4 separate regions of the Homo sapiens genome follow, and regions 2, 3 and 4 are each reported to be linked to region 1. The links are microRNA targets in miRTarBase. Many come from high-throughput screens and were not tested one by one. Region 1 holds a microRNA gene; each other region holds the end of a gene's coding sequence. Distances are from middle to middle.

The links. Region 1 holds the annotated microRNA hsa-miR-214-5p (UGCCUGUCUACACUUGCUGUGC, at 2,429-2,450, shown strand). A microRNA usually pairs through its seed, bases 2 to 8, with sites in the 3' UTR of a target mRNA and lowers its output. Matches are read on the target gene's strand: a 7mer-m8 pairs with bases 2 to 8, a 7mer-A1 pairs with bases 2 to 7 and ends in A, and an 8mer does both.
Region 2: the mRNA of GGA3 is a reported target of hsa-miR-214-5p. Seed matches in the 3' UTR shown: 7mer-m8 at 1,136-1,142 and 7mer-m8 at 1,242-1,248.
Region 3: miRTarBase lists NICN1 as a target of hsa-miR-214-5p. Seed matches in the 3' UTR shown: 7mer-A1 at 1,453-1,459.
Region 4: the mRNA of INAVA is a reported target of hsa-miR-214-5p. Seed matches in the 3' UTR shown: 7mer-A1 at 3,415-3,421 and 7mer-A1 at 3,548-3,554.

Annotation. Positions count from the first base shown.
Region 1 is chr1:172,137,509-172,141,306 of GRCh38, reverse strand. MIR214 (microRNA 214) reads left to right here and starts at 2,400; the gene lies at 2,400-2,509. All of the region lies in intron 14 of DNM3 (dynamin 3), which reads right to left. It overlaps DNM3OS (DNM3 opposite strand/antisense RNA), which reads left to right. Exons shown (of 4, transcript NR_103486.1): 4 at 711-3,798. MIR3120 (microRNA 3120) reads right to left here and starts at 2,499; the gene lies at 2,419-2,499.
Region 2 is chr17:75,233,951-75,238,727 of GRCh38, reverse strand. It overlaps GGA3 (golgi associated, gamma adaptin ear containing, ARF binding protein 3), which reads left to right. Exons shown (of 17, transcript NM_138619.4): 16 at 1-76; 17 at 339-2,129. The coding sequence ends at 449. NUP85 (nucleoporin 85) reads right to left here. Exons shown (of 19, transcript NM_024844.5): 17 at 3,940-4,091; 18 at 3,527-3,628; 19 at 2,970-3,150. The coding sequence ends at 3,049. Among named protein-coding and RNA genes, the nearest start is that of GGA3, 25 kb to the left of the region's middle. RefSeq lists a silencer at 3,914-4,077.
Region 3 is chr3:49,422,042-49,425,041 of GRCh38, forward strand. NICN1 (nicolin 1, tubulin polyglutamylase complex subunit) reads right to left here. Exons shown (of 6, transcript NM_032316.3): 5 at 2,908-3,000; 6 at 292-2,833. The coding sequence ends at 2,792. AMT (aminomethyltransferase) reads right to left here and starts at 432. Exons shown (of 9, transcript NM_000481.4): 1 at 320-432; 2 at 63-230. The coding sequence starts at 409. RefSeq lists enhancers at 1-59, 60-813.
Region 4 is chr1:200,911,178-200,917,347 of GRCh38, forward strand. INAVA (innate immunity activator) reads left to right here. Exons shown (of 10, transcript NM_001142569.3): 9 at 276-960; 10 at 2,360-4,565. The coding sequence ends at 2,452. Among named protein-coding and RNA genes, the nearest start is that of INAVA, 19 kb to the left of the region's middle.

The sequences.
Region 1 (3,798 bases):
TTTCTTACTTCAAATCCCTTCTTACTTTCATGTTCTGTAAATTAAGTAGAAATAAATATTTACTCATTTTCAAAGGTCTCTTACAAATAATTTTTATCAGTTTTAATAGTTAGAGATAACGAAGTAAATTAGGAAAAATAATTAAATCTTCATTTTGAATTTTTTGACTTAGCGTGACAGCCAGTTTCCTGGAGTTGCTTTGGTTTAATTTCACTACAGAAGACTTAGAAGACAATTCTTTTCTTACATTTTTTTCCTTAAGAAATAAAAGACAAAAAGAAAACAAGGTGTAATAACCACACTAAAAATTACATGGTATGATAATAATACAAATAGCTCTTTTATGTTTTAGCTAGTATTTTAAGTAATAATAAACTAATATTCAACCTATAATTTGGGAGATTAAAAAAAGGTCAATATGGTTTTCAGTCTTTCATCTTTTTAACAAGTTTAGGGGCAGGTTCAACATAACAATGAAGTGTGCATATGTCACATAGTTACTGTAAGTGTGTTTTAAAAATCTATCAGAAACATAAATTGTCCAAAAGCCTTATGAATAGAACAATTGTTTTCAGCAAGATTTTTTTTTTCCCCTGAAAAACTGTTGTGGTTTTTCTGGCTCAAAAAATTTTTATATCTTGCCTTAATAAAACTGTTTTATATTAAAGCATAACATACAAACTCACAAATATTTCTTTTTATTTTTTCAGGTTGCATGCATCATTCCTTTAATTGAGCAGAGTTAACTGGATCAAATTATTTATGGGAGAGAGAGGAAAAGTTATAAAGAATTATAGTAATTTTTAATTTCCACCAATATACTCTTTGTAAGTGAATCACTCTATAATTACTTTCTGTTGCACTGAATGCAGCAACAATAACACAATAGTATTTTAAGGCACTGGTTTTTGGCATACTCTAACCTTGTAATTATTTAAATAACAGCCAAGTTTACTCATGTTTTTGATTCTGTCAAGAAAAAAAAAAAGTTCCTTTACTCGAAAGTGATGGCCGAAACAGAATCGGAAATTTGTTTTCTTGAAATTACATAAATACACAGAAAATGGCACTTATTAGCTTTTGTTAAAACATTACCTTACCTAATCACTGCATAAAAGTCCAGATTTGTAGAAAATTGTAATTTTCTCAGTATCTAAAACTATTTTGCTTTCCATTAAGTTTCTATTTGCTATTTTCTCAGAATTTTACAATTAAAGATAAATCACAAACTGTTTGTTTTTCTTAAAGTTCTTTGAGAAAATGTCTAATTATACAATCCTTGGACAATACTGTGTTTTTTTGGTGCTGTGTTTTTTAAGAAGTCCTACTTACTGGAATTTTGACTATTTGGATATTTTTGTTTTTAAAAGGGGAGGGGAATTTGCTTAATACTTCTAAAGATGTGAATTGATAATTGATATTAAAATAGAATTACTCTCAACTCACCAGAATTAAATTTTATATCTGCATATTTAACACTATTAGCTCATATAAATTATAAGAAAAATTTTCAAAGGATCTGGTTTTAATTTTTTGGATATGAAATGAATTTGCCTTTTCTGCCTTTTCTTAAGTACTATTTTGTAACTATATTGCACTAACTATATCCAAAACACATTCTGAGCATCACTGTGAGTAACAGCCTTCCAGTTTGTACCCTTTTGATTCACAGCATGGCCCTATAGTTAATTAAGAGGTGGATAACTTAAGCTCACAACTGCCTTTAATTTGATTTCACATCCACAGTTATAAACTTTGCATTTAAAAGGAAAATGAGACATTTAAATAGGTTCCTGTTGTTTCACATATAATTGGTAAAAACATATTCCCTTGTAGGATCCTATTATCAGAGCATCAAATACCAAAGTCAGCAACTTGGGTTGCCAAATAAATTAGGCTCATTAATTATTTTGAAAAGGGCTGCTGTTTCCATGTAAATGATAATTTTCTTTTTCATGGACAAGGTTATGGTACTTATCTACTAAAAGAAACATGCATAAACATAGTTTTTATCTTTAACTTCAGTATTAAAATATGCAGTTTTTTGCAAAGAGGAAAAACATCTGGTTCAATTACGCTGAACTCTGACTACATGTGGGCCAGTAATAATATGAATTGGACTTAAGAATAAACCTTGTGTTTAATCTCTTTTTTTCCTTAAAATTTTAATGTGAGTTTTCTGTTACGCAAATTATCCATGTTAGCACATTTGGAACAAATGTATAAATGTACTTTCTGAATAAAGTCAAAAGTCTAACTTGTTTTTAGTTCCATAATGTTTTAATGTTTAATTATATTGTGTATTTTTCTCCCTTTCCCCTTACTCTCCAAAATCACCAAATCTGGAAAACAGGCTGATTGTATCTGTCTATGAGCAAAGGAAACCTGAAGGAACCAAGGGCCTGGCTGGACAGAGTTGTCATGTGTCTGCCTGTCTACACTTGCTGTGCAGAACATCCGCTCACCTGTACAGCAGGCACAGACAGGCAGTCACATGACAACCCAGCCTGAATGACAACCAGCCATTGAAAGAAAGCAGCCCTCACACCATAGCATCTACACCAAGAGCTACAACCAAAATGAGGGGCTCGGGGGCCTGGGGTTTTAATCTGTTGGTTTAATACTTAACTCATGTATTATTTTATTTTGATTCAAGTATTAAAACCCACCAAAAGTAAAGTGAGTGGTGCCTATGAAATATAATAAAACCCATTTCTGAAAATGTTCCTGTGCATTCTATAGTTCTCTTTTCCTAATTGTTGTCAGCAAATCACTACCCTTGACCTTTATTGTACACAGCTTTGCAGCACCCTATATTGATATAAAAACTCAATATAACAAAACAATATAACTTCAGTCTGATGCTTAACAAAGAATAAATTATTCTAAGAATTCTTGTCCATAAACTAAGTATGGTTTTCTATGTCATGATTTTTTTTTTTTTTTTTTTTTTTTGGAAGGGGATAGGGTGGAAAGACAGAGAAAAGAAAAGGGAGAAAAAGAGTATTCCAAAGGATCAAGTGCTTTGAGTTAACTCTGCCAGTCTGGGTTAACTCTGCCAGTCTGGGTCTGGGCAAAACACAGTGAAAAGACTACTATTTCCAACTAGTGTTCAACTATATTAAAATAATAGTTTCTCCTCTTTTGACATATGGAAAGTTGAAATTTTTGATACTTCCACGCGTCATGGTATACATAAATTTATGACTGCGTCATTCTTTAATTAAGAAGGTGCTTATGCTACAGTTCTAGGAGTAGAATTTACAAGGCCAACACATTCACTTGCAACCTATGCTTCCATCACTATAAACTTTCAAGATCTTGAGATGTTCAGGCAATTCATTTATCTTCAGAAGCATAAGGAAAGTGGTTAATGCACTTGAAATGTATATTTTGACACATCTTTTGAGAAAATATCCAAACTTCAGTTTATGCACTGTTAACTGGAGTGAAATGATAAGGGATGGCTTTTGTCTATGAATACTTTAAATACTTAAGGGTAAAAGGTGGGAAGATGGATAAAATTAGAAATGTGTCAACTTTTATTTAGTTCATTAACATGTTTTAGCTTCAGTATTTGAAATTAATTTTCATCTTTCTTAGATTCTGGTCAAGCTTAAAAAATGTAACACAAGGCTACTCAAAACTTTTTTCACATTTAACAATTAAACACTTTATGTATGTATTCTTAACTAAAGCAAACTATTTTTCATTCAGCTATTTTATTTTTAAAATGAAAGTCTCAGTCTTAAAGCTAAGATCCCAGTGAGTTTCAAATTTTCTGACAATGATATTTTA
Region 2 (4,777 bases), not on the chromosome of region 1:
AGAACTCTCTCCATTTAGCCCCATCCAGCCACCTGCAGCCATCACCCAGGTCATGTTGCTGGCCAATCCACTGAAGGTGAGCAGCAAAGAACCCAGGGGTCCCAGCCTGAGGCCCCAGCTGCCCCAGATTAGGACGTCAGGCCCACCACCTCCCAGCTGGAAGTGTTTTGACTGTAGGATTGACACATCCCTTTGCTGCCTTAGGTTAAGTGTCTGAGCATGGTTGGGGGTTGCGGGGAAAAGGGACCATTCCTCTAGCACAGAGAGGGTAGCAGAATAGAGGGCGTCCTGCCAAGGGGCCGCCTGGGCTGGATCTCACTTGCTGCCCTCTGTCACAGGAGAAGGTGCGGCTTCGGTATAAGCTGACCTTCGCCCTGGGGGAGCAGCTGAGCACAGAGGTGGGCGAGGTGGACCAGTTCCCTCCTGTGGAACAGTGGGGGAACCTATGACCCCAGAGGACGCTGTGATCTCCACCTTGAAGCCAGGCAGGCTGCCCTGAGACGAGGAGGGCTCTGGTCCCGTCACTCTCCATGCCCTGACAACAGTGCTTGTAGCTTTGATGTGGAACAGGGGCCCTGGGCATTTCTGCTGAGAACCAAACTGCTGCTGTGATAACCTCTCCTTTGGCCCCTAAAAGGACCTGTTTTTATCTACCTGTGTGACTTGAAGTGGCCATATGCTGTCAGGGGTGCGGAGTGGCCCCTGACTTCACTGCTGTCCCGGGAACATGGACCCCCAGGCTTGGCGTAGGTGTTTGCTTCCTTCTACTGGCATTCACTGAAGCCACTGGGGTGGGGGGTGGGGGGTGGGAGTCTCTAAAGAGAGACTGTCATGGGTCATTCCCCACAAGAGCCACATCCTCACACCTGACAGATGCACGGCCCAAGGGGCTGCAGCCCTGTTGCAATTCCATGCTTCCCCCGCCAACCAGCTCCTGCTGCCATCCCCAGGGAGGTGGCCCAGGAAGGTGCCTGGCCCAGAATAAGGAACTGGCATACTGCAAAGTCCCCAGCCCTGCCTCTGGTGGACAGCATCGTCCTGGAATGGCCACGGAGTGATGAGTTGTGTGCTTGTCCCTGGCAGTGGCAGGCTGTGTCCTATGGACATCTTGGCAGGACATGGAATTTGGCCTCATGACAGGCCCAACTAGGGATAGGAAGGAAAATGAAGAGAGCCAGTATTTCCCCTTCTCCAGAAGCAGGTACTCAGCTTTCTGGGAAAAGCGTGCCTCCAGCCGTGGGGACAGGCCATCCTACTGACTACCTCTTGCTTGGCATGAAATAAACTGCTATCCTCCCCTTGGAATCTACCGCCACTCTACATCCTACTGCTTTGGCCTCCCTCTCCTCTCACCAGATGGCATGTGGTGTGGCACCTGTGGCTGGACACAGGAGGCCTCAGGATCACAAATGTTACACTAGACATATGTCCTAATGTGCTGCCCAGAAACCTCAACTGTTCCCCAGCTACTGAGGGGCACTGTCAGCGAGATGTTGGGTCTGGAGGTGATGAGATCGGGCCACACTTGAGCTGAGTCACCAGACCCTATTGCTTCAACAGTGCTTGGCCCCCGCCAGCTTGTCCCAGCCACTCTAGCTGCTGGATGTGATCCTGGGACATGTACTCCAAGCCTCCGTCACAAAAAAAAAATCACCAGCTGCCATAGACACGGGGGAAGCTTGCGGAGCCCAGGTGAACAAGCTCAGCAATCGGACATCTCTGGGGAAAGGAAGGTGGCACAGACCATGTTCCCTGGTTCCTCCCTGCCCCTTGCCAGGCTTCCTTATTCCTTACTATGGGAAGAGGTCATATCCCTTCCCTGCCCCTCGCTGTCTTTAGCAAGCAGGTTTCACTGCTTCATTAGAAGAGGACAAGTCAAAAGTGAATCATTTTTCACTACTTAAGGAATAAATCCAAGAGCTTTCCAGAGACTGGCTGCTGCAGCCCTGGGAATGTCTGTGGAATTACTATGTGGAAATGGAACTTTGTGTTATGCTCTAGACATTACAGTTATTTGAGTGTTACTCGTTACTGTTGAGGTCAGTGCTTCGTGGCAAATGGCTGTACTGGATATCCCAGCTCTGCTGCCCTTGTTTTGCTGCATGTTAAATAAAACCATTTTCACTGTACTTGGAATCTTCCTAGTATAGACGCCATTCACCCTGATGGAGGAAAAGGTACCACCTATGAATTCTAGATATACATGAGGACAGCCTATGATAGAACTGCCCAAGGTTTTTGTTAAAAGTGCGGGTTCCTGTACGCTTATATTTTAAGGGAACTAAATAACCAAAATGTTAAGTGTTCCAGAAGAGGTGAGGCAAGATTTCAGAAGCACAAGTATACCACCAAGCGTTCTTGTTCAGACTTCCAAGACACTGCAGTCACCACAACTTTGGGGTTTTTTTTTTTTTTTTTTTTAAACAGAGATGGAGTCTCCCTATGTTGCCCAGGTTGGTCTCAAACTCCTGGGGTTGAGGGATCCTCCCAAAGTGCTGGGATTACAGGACGTGAGCCACTGCACCCGACCTGGGGGGTGATTTCTTATCTAAGGAGGCACAGGAAGACAGTTGCGTATCAGAACATAAAACAAGGCCGGGTGTGGTGGTTCACGCCTGTAATCCCAGCACTGTGAGAGGCCAAGGCGGGCAGATCACAAGGTCAGGAGTTTGAGATCAGTCTGGCCAACACAGTGAAACCCCATCTCTACTAAAAATACAAAAAAATTAGCTGGGTATGGTGTGCACTTATAATCCCAGCTACTTGGGAGGCTGAGGCAGGAGAATCACGTGAACCCTGGAGGCGGAGGTTGCAGTGAGCTGAGATCGTGCCATTGCACTCCAGGCCAGGCAACAGTGCAAGACTCCGTCTCAAAAAAAAAAGAACATAAAACAAGCATTTTTTAATCTCTTACCACCTCAGGTTCAGACTAGACAGATAAAAAATTCCCTGGGTGGACTCTAAGAACCTACATTTGCAAAACAACATTTATTCTTTTAAAAAAATCTATATACATTGCCATACAAAGATACCACATTGAAGCAGTTCTCAGGAACCTTCCAGTGAGCCTTCTCTTATAATTGCCCGAGCAAGATTTCGTGCCAGAGAAAGTCTCAGCATTTCCACCTTGGTGGTCTCTATGTCATCATCCTGCAAAGCAGAGAGCGCCAGCATGAGCTAAGAGCAGGAAGGAGCCCTTTCACACTCCCGAAGGGTCTAGCTAATCCAAAGGTAGAGGGCACTTAACATTCATAGTAGCTTCCAGCAAATTATCGATGTAAAAGAAAGCAATACCAAAGGGCCATACTGGAAATGATGAACAGCAAAGAACAAAATGTAGAGATGAGAACACTAGAATCCCTGATTTTCTCCTAAAAGAAGGTGGTGTGTGAATTACACAGGTTAAGGGGAACAGAGGCACATGTGTCCATAGGAGCCAGTGTTTCTGGAGGGAAGGGGAAGCCTGAGATAGAGGGAGCCTTTTCCCACCTCCATGTGGAACCATCAACCCAAAAGTGAAAATGACCTGGAGCTGCTCGGTATCAGATTCTCCATGCACAGGTCTTCTTGACGTCAAGTCCTCCAGACACCGCATCAACTCATAAGTCTGTTCTGCTGAGAAAATCACCTAGGGAAGAGAGCCTGCCTTGCTTGGCTGCCCCCAGCCCTGGCCTGCATTGGTTGGGGCAGGGGCCCATGTTCGGACGTTCTTCCTTTCATACCCTTCGCAATAGTGTGCTTTGTATACGAATACCTCATTTCAAATCAAGCAGTGTTTGTTTCCTGTGTGAGTCTGGAATCCCAGAGAGGGCGCTAAGGGGAATACACGCGCACAGGCAGAACGACAAAGGAGGAAACACGCACATCGGCAACAGCTATACAACTAAGCTCTAGCAGGGACTGACAAGCAAAGAAAACCACTGCTGCTGCAACCTTCACCTGTTTCTGTTCCAAAAGGGGCAAGGCGTCTGTCAGCAGAGTCATCCAGAAAGACCGAGGGGCAATCCGAGACGTCATCAAGGACAGAAGGAGAGAAGCTGCGTCGGCAAAACGCTTCTCCCCGTACATACGGTGGAACTCGCGATACTTTCCTATGGCGAAACAAGAGCACTGAGTAACCTGCATATTCCCCCAAATTGCCCAAGTGACACCTACAAAAGTCACCCTGGCCCTAAACAGGAGAAGAAAAACCTCAGACCAGCCACTCCACAAAGCAGGAGATTTTTTTCTGTCTCCAAACTCATAGGTCCCAATGAGATGCAGACCAAGAGCATTCAAAACAGACTTGGAAGAACTCCGAAGAGCCAAATCTGGGGAAACATCAGAGTCAAAATACATAACAAGAGTCATGGATTAAAAGAGATTGACTAGGCCAGGCGTGGTGGCTCATGCCTATGCCTGTAACCCCAGCACTTTGGGAGGCCGAGTCAGGTGGATCACCTGAGGTCAGGAGTTTGAGACCAACCTGGCCAACATGGTGAAACCCCATTTCTACTAAAAATACAAAAATTAGCCGGGTATGGTGGCATGCACCTGTAGTCCCAGCTACTCAGGAGGCTGAGGAGGAAGAATGGCTTGAACCCGGGAGGTGGAGGTTGCAGTGAGCCAAGATTGTACCACTGCACTCCAGCGTGGGCGACAGAGTGAGACTCCGTCTCAAAAAAAAAAAAAAAAAGAAGAAACATGGAGGCACTGGCCAGGCACAGTAGCTCACACCTGTAATCCCAGCACTTTGGGAGGCCGAGGCGGGCGGATCACTTGAGGTCAGGAGTTCCAG
Region 3 (3,000 bases), not on the chromosome of region 1:
GTGGACCACTGTAAACAGGGAGGAAGGCCTGATCAGATGGCCAGTGTGCTCCCCTGGCTCACCTGCAGCATATGAGACACGTCAAAGAGCGAGCAGTGCTGGCGTGTGTGCAGGTGCGAGTCAGTGTGACTGTCCCGGTACTGCACTGGCAGACTCCAACCCGCAAACGCCACCATTTTCCCGCCGTGGGCCAGGTGGAAGTCATAGAGCGGTGTCCTGCGGAGCACCTCCTGTGGGCGGCTGGGCTTAGTGCCACCAGGGCCCTAGCCCCCAGCCGCTTCCCTCCCCCACCCTCCAAGATCAGCACCCTCTATCCCACCTGTGCGCAACTAAGTGGACGACACAAGGCCGGGGGGAATGCCTGCAGGCGAAAGCCCAGACGGGCCACCACACTTACAGCCCTCTGCATCGTCGCCTGCAACGAGTGCAGACGGCGCACAGAGGCCACCACACTGCCAGGCACGCCGGGAGATGTAGTCCAGGCCTCTGCTCGGACAGGTCTCTCTCCGGAGCAAAGGATCTGAAGGGGGCGTGGGCAGCCCCAAGGGCAGGCTGGGATTTAGAGCAGAGAATGCAGGAACCCGCAACCACAGGGAAGAAGCCTCCAGCTCTTTCGGCTGACTCTTCAGGGCAGCTCGGGCAATCCAGAGCTGATTGGGCTGCCCAGAACAAAGCTAGGGGCTAGACCGCCCCCTGCAGAACCGCCCTGTCTCCAGAGGGTCAAAGTTCTGGAAAGGGCTGAAAGGTCTGAATCATACCTTTAGGACCTCAAGAGAGTAAGGTCAAGTGGGGGTGGGGAAGGTGGGCCAGCCTGGCAGGTAGGCAGCACCACAGTAGTCTGTCCTCATGTGGACCCCTAGTTCCACAGCTCTCCCACCAGGCAGACACAGGCAGCCAGCAGTCATGCATTCCACAAGTATTTATTGATCTTACTGCATACCAGGCCCTCAGATGGGGACACAGCCACGAATGAAGCATGGTCCCTGCTACCACAAGGTCCTCTTCACTTACACACACACTGAGGACTACTGCTTCGTCACGCTTTCCGAAGCAGCTGAGTGGGGCTATGTAAGTGACCTTGCAGATGAAGTCGCCACCTGCAAGAACTCACAGGTGAGAACAGAGGGTGGCCACCAAAAGGTCACTGAACTCCCCCGAGAAAACTGTTGAGCCACACACATGTCCAACTTTCCAGGTCCAAGACATACTGCAGTACTGCTTTGTAATAGCCACCAGGTGCAAAGCCAGGAAGAACCAGAGGGAAACAGGTTTTTCTCACATGAGGGAAGAGCAGCCTGCATCACTTAATGGTTGGACTGAGTTAATGCAGGACTTAGGCCTCTTAAAAGGCAACAATGAGAACCCTTACTTGGACCCACTCCCCACCACGGTTGATCTCTCATTATGCTGAGCATATCTCTTGGAAAGGGGCAGGGCGGGCGCGGTGGCTCATGCCTGTAATCCCAGCACTTTGGAAGGCCAAGGCAGGCAGATCACCTGAGGTCAGGTGTTTGAGACCAGCCTGACCAACATGGAGAAACCCCATCTCTACTACAAATACAAAATTAGCCAGGCATGGTGATGCATGACTGTAATCCCAGCTACTCGGGAGACTGAGGCAGGAGAATTGCTTGAACCTGGGAGGCGGAGGTTGCAGTTAGCCAAGATTGCACTATTGCACTCCAGCCTGGGCAACAAGAGCAAAACTCAACCTCAAAAAAAACAACAAAAAAGGAGAGGGGCAACTGGGAGAAAGGATAGAGATGTGCTTTGGGCTATGTCAGATGGCAGAAGGGTCCCAGTTCTTTTTTTTTTGTTTGTTTGTTTAAGATGGAGTTTCGCTCTTCTTGCCCAGGCTGGAGTGCAATGGCATGATCTCAGGTCCGCAACCTCCACTTCCCGGGTTCAAGAGATTCTCCTGCCTCAGCCTCCCAAGTAGCTGGGATTACAGGTGCCTACCACCACGCCCAGCTAATTTTTTGTATTTTTAGTAGAGACGGGGTTTCTCCAGGTTGGTCAGGCTGGTCTTGAACTCCTGACCTCAGGTGATCCGCCTGCCTGGGCCTCCCAAAGTGCTGGGATTACAGGCGTGAGCCACTGCACCCTGCCTAGAAGGGTCCCAGTTCTTATGCTCAGGCCCTGGTTTTGCTAGAGACACGTGCCCAGGCCCTATGGGCACACCCACTTGAACATATATTCAGGAGCCAGCTCAGAAACCAAGAGACTCAGGCTGCCCAAATCTTCAGGTTTCCTTCCTAGGCAGGCAGCAGAAGAGTTCAGACAGGAAATTTCTCTCTGTGGCATAACACAAATGGAAAGAAAACCACTAGGGGACACACAGGAAGAAATAAGGTTTCTGTTTCTTCCTCAAGTGTCCCAAGTGCCATGGCAGCAATGGCCTTCCAGGTCCATACATGGAGCAGGTTTTAGTAGGTCAGCCCAGCCCAACTGCACTGACATGAGGGAGCAGGCAGAAGACAGGAATGTGCATGTTGCCAGAAGGGGCAGAGGGCACTCAGGGATTCTCAGTAAGTACAACTGACTGGAGTGTTTTTGGGTAGAAGGAAGAATTGAGTTGCAGCCAGGCGAAGACAGAGCACCCCCATGCCAGGAGCTCATGCTGAAGTAACACGGTAAGCCCCTGAGAATCCTGAATCTGTGAATGTGGCCCAGACAGAACAGGCATGCAGGCAACACTTGGAATGCACAGGAAATACACTTCAGCCTCTGGTGGCCCAAACCAAGTCTGGGTGGGCACAGAAAGGCCAACATCTTGGCTAGGAGCAACCATTCAAGTGTAGGAGAGCAAGTTCAGGTCATAACAGCCATCCACCTGAAATACAAAAGACCATCAGGTCTGATCTGCTCAGGGCAAAGCAAGCCAAGCAGAAGGAAGCGATTACTTACATCAAAGCGGCCGATCCTTGCGGAGGTGTGACTGGCCCGGATCATCTCTGTCAGTGCCCACATCTGCTGCACCTCGGAGGATACCCTGCTGGG
Region 4 (6,170 bases), 29 Mb from region 1:
TGCTACTTGATGTAGCACACTTTACACGAATCACAAGCTTGTGAATGCAGCAGGAACACTTTTGCACACAGGGAAGGAATGCGTTGGCACCCACGCAGCCCGGCAGAGGGTTTGTTGGTTTGCTTTGGGAGACTTGACCTAAGACCCTTGCACGAGGGCCATGCTTGGGCCTTGAGGTAGAGCAGGACTCACCTGTTTTAACTCCACCTCCCGCCCCAACCCCAGTGTGGAGTTTCTGCCCCCCACACTCAGAATGCCTCTCTTTCCCTCTTCAGGGTGGATTCCTTCCGGGCGGGTCCTGAGGGCCGAGGTCGCAGCGCCTTTCCCCGCCGCCGCCCCACTCACTACACGGTGACAGTGCCAGATTCCTGCTTTCCCGCGACCAAGCCCCCGCTGCCCCACGCCGCCTGCCACTCCTGCTCAGAAGACAGTGGCTCTGACGTCTCCAGCATCTCCCACCCCACTTCGCCGGGCAGCAGCAGCCCCGACATCTCCTTTCTGCAGCCTCTCTCCCCTCCCAAGACCCATCGTCACCGCGGGGCCTGGGTCCCAGCCGGCAGCAGAGAGCTGGTCGCCCACCACCCCAAGCTACTGCTGCCGCCTGGCTATTTCCCGGCGGGGCGGTACGTGGTGGTGGCTGAGAGCCCCCTGCCGCCTGGCGAGTGGGAGCTGCGCCGCGCAGCCCCGGGCCCTGCTTACGAGGAGGAGGGCACTCCCCTGCGCTACCAGCGTCTGGTGCCCTCCCGCAGCCGCATCGTGCGGACGCCCTCCCTGAAGGACAGCCCGGCAGGCCGGGGGCTCAGCAAGGCCGCCGTGTCCGAGGAGCTCAAGTGGTGGCACGAGCGTGCACGCCTCCGGAGCACCCGCCCCCACTCACTGGACCGCCAAGGAGCTTTCCGGGTCAGGAGCCTGCCCCTTGGGAGAGAGGGCTTCGGACGAGCCCTGGGACCCCGGGCACAGGTACGGCTGCTCTGGAGGGACCCCGGGGCCAGGCAGGAGGGCTGTTTTGTTGGGGAGGGGCTGCAATTCTAGTATGTCCAAGGGTACAGAGGCATCAAAGCAGCAACCTAGTGGCCGGGTAATCCCCGTCTAGGAAGAACAGGCCAAAAAATCATTTCCTCTTGGCTTTGGAAGGCACTCTTGGCTTCCCTGGGGCACCTCCTAATTTTGCCTGCCATGTCTAGCTCAAGAGCATATACACTGGTGGAGATGATCCCCGAAGATAGCTGAGACTTTTTCTCTCCCTAAATGATGATGCACAAAGCAGATAAGCCTCTTCATAATCAAAAGTCCAGTCCAAATCAGCCCCTCAGATTTCCATTTGAAGGTCTAGGACAAAGGGAGAGTAGGAAATGAGTTGCAGAAGCCAGAACCTGTGATTTTCTGGGCATCAGCATCCTCCCTGACACCCCTCCTCACCACCAAGCCGAGAAGAAGGGTGGCATCAGAGTTAAGAGCACCCACCCTCAAGCTAGACCACCAGGTTCAAATCCCAGTTCTGCCACTTACGAGCTGTATGATTGGGCAAGTTACTTAACCCCTTTGGACCTAGTGTTTCCTCCCCTGTGAAATGAGAGTAGTAGAGTACCTATCTCATAGGGCTGCCAAGAGGCTGAAATGATTAGAGCAATGCATGGTAAGCGCTAGATATGTGATATTATTATCATCTGGGGCCACAGAGGCCAGGGAGCAGGCTGGAGGGTAGTATATAGGATAGAGCACCCTGACACTGGGTAGGGTGGCAGCCTTGGTTTCCTTGGCCCCTATTTCTTCATTCTGGAAGTGGGGAGCCACACACAGGAATCCTTTCTTTATTCTTTCTCCCTGGTACGGAGGGCTCTGCAGGTGATGTGCTCCAGAAGTTACCAACAAGCTGCTTCTTTGAGACCCCAGATTCCCAGCAGACCCAGCTGCGTGTCCCTCCCCCACCCACGGTTCTTTGGACTGCAGCTGGCATCCTGGGCCTGGCAGCACCCTGGCCCCGGTCCGAGGCCGCGCCCTCCAGCTGACGTGCTTTTCCCTTTCTGCGCGCTTGGGCCTGTCCTTGGCTGGATAGACCCAGCCCATCCCAACGTGCCAGACAGGGAGGGTGATGAGAAGTGAGCCCAGGAAAGGTGGGGGAGGAGGAGGTCAGGGCGCCTGTCACACCCCAAAAGAACATGGAGGAAAATGTGTAAAGGGGGTCCCTGAAGAACAGAGAGCATCCTGGGAGGAAGGGGCTGAGTGCCAGGGCCTGCTGCTGCTGCTGCTTCTGCTGGTCAGTGTCCCTAAGGGATAAGGATGGTGTAACTGTGCCTGCTGTCCCCGCTTTTCTGCCTGGTTCATTTACCCACCTGTCCTTTCTTCCTGACCCTGGCAGGTGCCCACAGTTTGTGTGCTGCGGAGATCGCCTGATGGGGCCCCTGTGCAAGTCTTTGTACCTGAAAAAGGAGAGATCATCAGCCAGGTGTAACTCTGCGCCCCACGCTGGAAAAAACTGTTTCATAGAGGGGCTGGGCTGAGACCCCCCCACCCCTGAGTGCCTCTTTCAGCTCCCCCATCCCCATCGCAGGCCGATGACCTGGAGCTGAGACCTTTTATTATTTTTTTTTTACACGACTTTTTTCAGAAGCCCTGACCTAAGGATTTATATATGTGGATTGTCCTCAATACCCCTGTGATATGATTATGTTTTATCCCCCAGAGTTTGGCCTACTGGACTTAAGGCCTTGCCTGTCTGACTGACAGCCTCTATCTCCTTATATAAGACAAGTGGCAGGGGACGAGTGAAGCAGAGTGAGCCACCTTGGGAGTTCTCCAACGCTCTGTGCTCTGGTTCTAAGAAATTCCCTGGGGAACTGCCCCTGGCCCTCCTGTCCCACTATTGCTGGAGGCTGGACATGGTACATACTCATGCACATGACTCTCCCCCATTTCCCAGGTCTCTGGGTACCCCAGCCTGGGCTGGGGGAGAATCTCTTCCCCCTTTTCTAATGTGCTCTGTGATGCACACACCAAGTGGTAGGTCAAAGGTCAGTATATCCCGGTGGTGTATTGTCTTGCTAGACCCTGCTATTTTCCTGACCCCCTAAATCCTCTTTAGGGACCCAGTCACTATACCCTGTCTATGCCCTGTGGGCTCCCAGACCCCTGAGCTTTGAGTCAGTGGCATCACAGTTTGTAGCCTCAGGGGGTCTGGCTGGGGGCTGGTCCATGCTTGTGGTTAGTGGACAGCAGCCACCCTTTGACAGCTACCTCTGGGCATCTCAAGGGCTTGCAGCCCCACTGCTCCTTCTAACATTTTGTTTGTTTTTGAGATGGAGTCTCGCTCTGTCGCCCAGGCTGGAATGCTGTAGCAAGATTTCGGCTCACTGCAACCCCCGTCTCCCGGGTTCAAGCGAATCTCCTGCCTCAGCCTTCCGAGTAGCTGGGATTACAGGCAAGCACCACCATGCCTGCTAATTTTTTATTTTTAGTAGAGATGGGGTTTCATCATGTTGGCCAGGCTGGTCTCGAACTCCTGACCTCAAGTGATCCACCTGCCTTGGCCTTTCAAAGTGCTGGGATTACAGGCATGAGCCACCGCACCTGGCCCTTCTAACGTTTTTTCATCATAGTCCCAAAAACCAATACTTTACAAGTGGTTTTGGAAAGGCACCACTTTTGTGGCATGTTCTGGTTGGGAGAGGGAGTCACAGTTCCTACTCCCCCCACCAGCTATGCTTCTGCTCTGAGAAGGTGGTTATTTATACAAACATGGACATACTCACTCCCAAGGGCTGATGAGATGCTGAATTTTCTTTGGGGGCATTCATTAATTGTCCCAGCTGCAGCGACTGGAGCAAGTCTGGAAGCTGCCTGTGCTAAGACCACCCAGCTGTCCCTGGGTTCTCATCCTAGGGCCTTCTTTGCTTCCAGGTCAGGGGACCTGCTTCAATGAGAAAGCAACTGAATTGAGGCTAGGAGAGGTAGGGAGAGCTGAGTTCTGACTTCACCTGTGCAGAACTCTCTGCCCCCATGTTACCTGGACTGGAACAGACTGTGAATATAGCAGAAGGTTCCAAGAACTCTGGTGTCTGACCTAGAAGAGGCACAGTTCTCTCTACTGGAAAGAAAACGATGTAGCCGATTGCACAAGGGTGCCAAGGGAAGACCCAGGATGGCCCATCAAAGGAACCTGGGGGAGGATGCAGGAGGCTGAAGGGATGCACCTGGCATTTCTCTCACTGTGCTCTTACCGCATCAGCAACCCCCAACTTTTGGGCCTACTCTGCCCCCCATGCGTGAATACCCTGCTTGGATGCTGTGCTTTTCCGGTTTGTCTCTAAGCCCCTTTCTCCAGGGCATGTTGGTTTCCCTGGCCTCTCAGTGTCCTAACTGGAGCCCAGAGTGCCTTGTTCTGAGCCAGGAGACGGCTGAGCACTGGCCCTCCACACCTAAGCGTCCTTTACATTAACTTATTGGTCTTGTATAACACCTGGTGCCATTGCCAAGTGGCTGTGTCCTCAGCTACAGAGCTGGAATTGTGTGGGGTTTAGTGCTAAATACTTCAATAAAGTCTGTTTTTTGTGATTGGCTGAGCTGGGGATGAGGGATTTTTTATTTTTATTTATTTTTATTTTTTGGTGTGTGTGTGTGTGTGTGTGTGTGTGTGTGTGCGCGCGCGCGCGCGCCAGGTTTCCCCGAGCAGAGGCTGAGCCCGGCCCCCTGGGCTGCCCGCCAAGGTGGCCAAGTTGCCCGGCCCCTCCAGCTGGTCTGGCCAGGTCCCTGGGGAGCTGGTGTGATGGGTTGGGTGGTAGAGGGAGGCTCTCAGATTCTCTGCTTCCGGGGCAGGGTGGAAGCCAGCACAACCCCTGTCAAGGCTCCTTACAGCCTCTTCAGCTTGAGGAGCTGGCCTGTGGGAGTCACTTCCCCAAGGACAGGGCACTGGCCAGGCAGAGGGTAGAGATGGGTGGCTCAGCGCCTCCAAGCCATTCCTGGAGCTTTGACTGCCCGGAGCCCAGGCTCATGAGAAACAGCCCCTTCCCCATACCTGGAAGACTGGGACCCCTCCTTGGGGTGGTGAGGAGGCGGGGCTCTCCGCAGGCCCCTCCCCCATCGGCAAGAGTGCCCACAGCCCCTCCGCTGCCTGGGGTCCCACTGAGGCCAGGGGCGGGGAGCGCCACCTTGGACACTTCCGTGCTTGCCCTGCAGGGACCGCTCCAGGGCCCCGGAGCACAGCGCCCCCTGGAGAGGCTGTGCCCGGACCTGAGGCGCCGGCGTGTCAGGTAAAGGGGTCCCCCTTCCCGCCAGTTCCCTCCACAGCCAAGGAAGGGGCGGGGAAGGGCCCCGGCCCTCGCTGCCCAAGGGGCGCCTCCAGCCTTGCCTGGGTGCGGCCCTGGGGGCCGCGGGGATCTGTGGGCCTCAGGGGTCTGGGGCACTCCATTCTTGGGGAAGGTAGGGGAGGGGAGACGGCTCCAGGGTCTCTGGAGAAGTTGTGGGGTATCCTGATCTCAGACCTGAGCGCTTCGACCTATTATTTGTGGGGAATGGGGCGCTGGATTCTGTATTTTAGACGATGGTGAGTTAGGCCCGGGGAAAACAGGGTGAGCAAGTTCCCAGGGGATGACCTGTCCAAGGGGCAGCTCCCAACAACAGGACAGAGACCAGCTAAGAGGGGGGATACAAAAGAGACGGACACAGGGGCAGAGCAAGGCCCTTTAAGGCAGTGAGCGATGGGACGCGCCCGTTTGGGGACCCGAAGTGCAGGGCGGTGAGAGAACCAGGTTGCACAGCAGTTTCTTCCTGGTCCACCAGCAGGCTTCCCTGGGCCATGTCTGGGAGGGGCAGACATGTGGGGGCTCTTAGCTCCCCTACCATAGGGCAGAAGTAAGGTTATGAATTAGGGGGTGGGGACAGAAGCCTCTGGGAAGAGGGGACCTCGGGATTTTAGCAGCAAGACTCCCAGAGGCAATTTGGCCTGGAGGCAGAGGGATGGCCACTGTGACCTAGGAGCCCACCTGTGAGTCTGAGATTCTCTATGCTGGAAGATCCCAGAATGGAAGACTACTAGGCAAATCAGGAGGGACCAGGGCCCTTCAGAGGGTCCCGAATCTTCCCATGGGGAAGAAATGGGAAGCTGACCCTGGAACCCGGCACTGGCCCTACTCAACCAATTCCTTTTGTGGTAAATGGGCAGGGTCTGCCTCCTG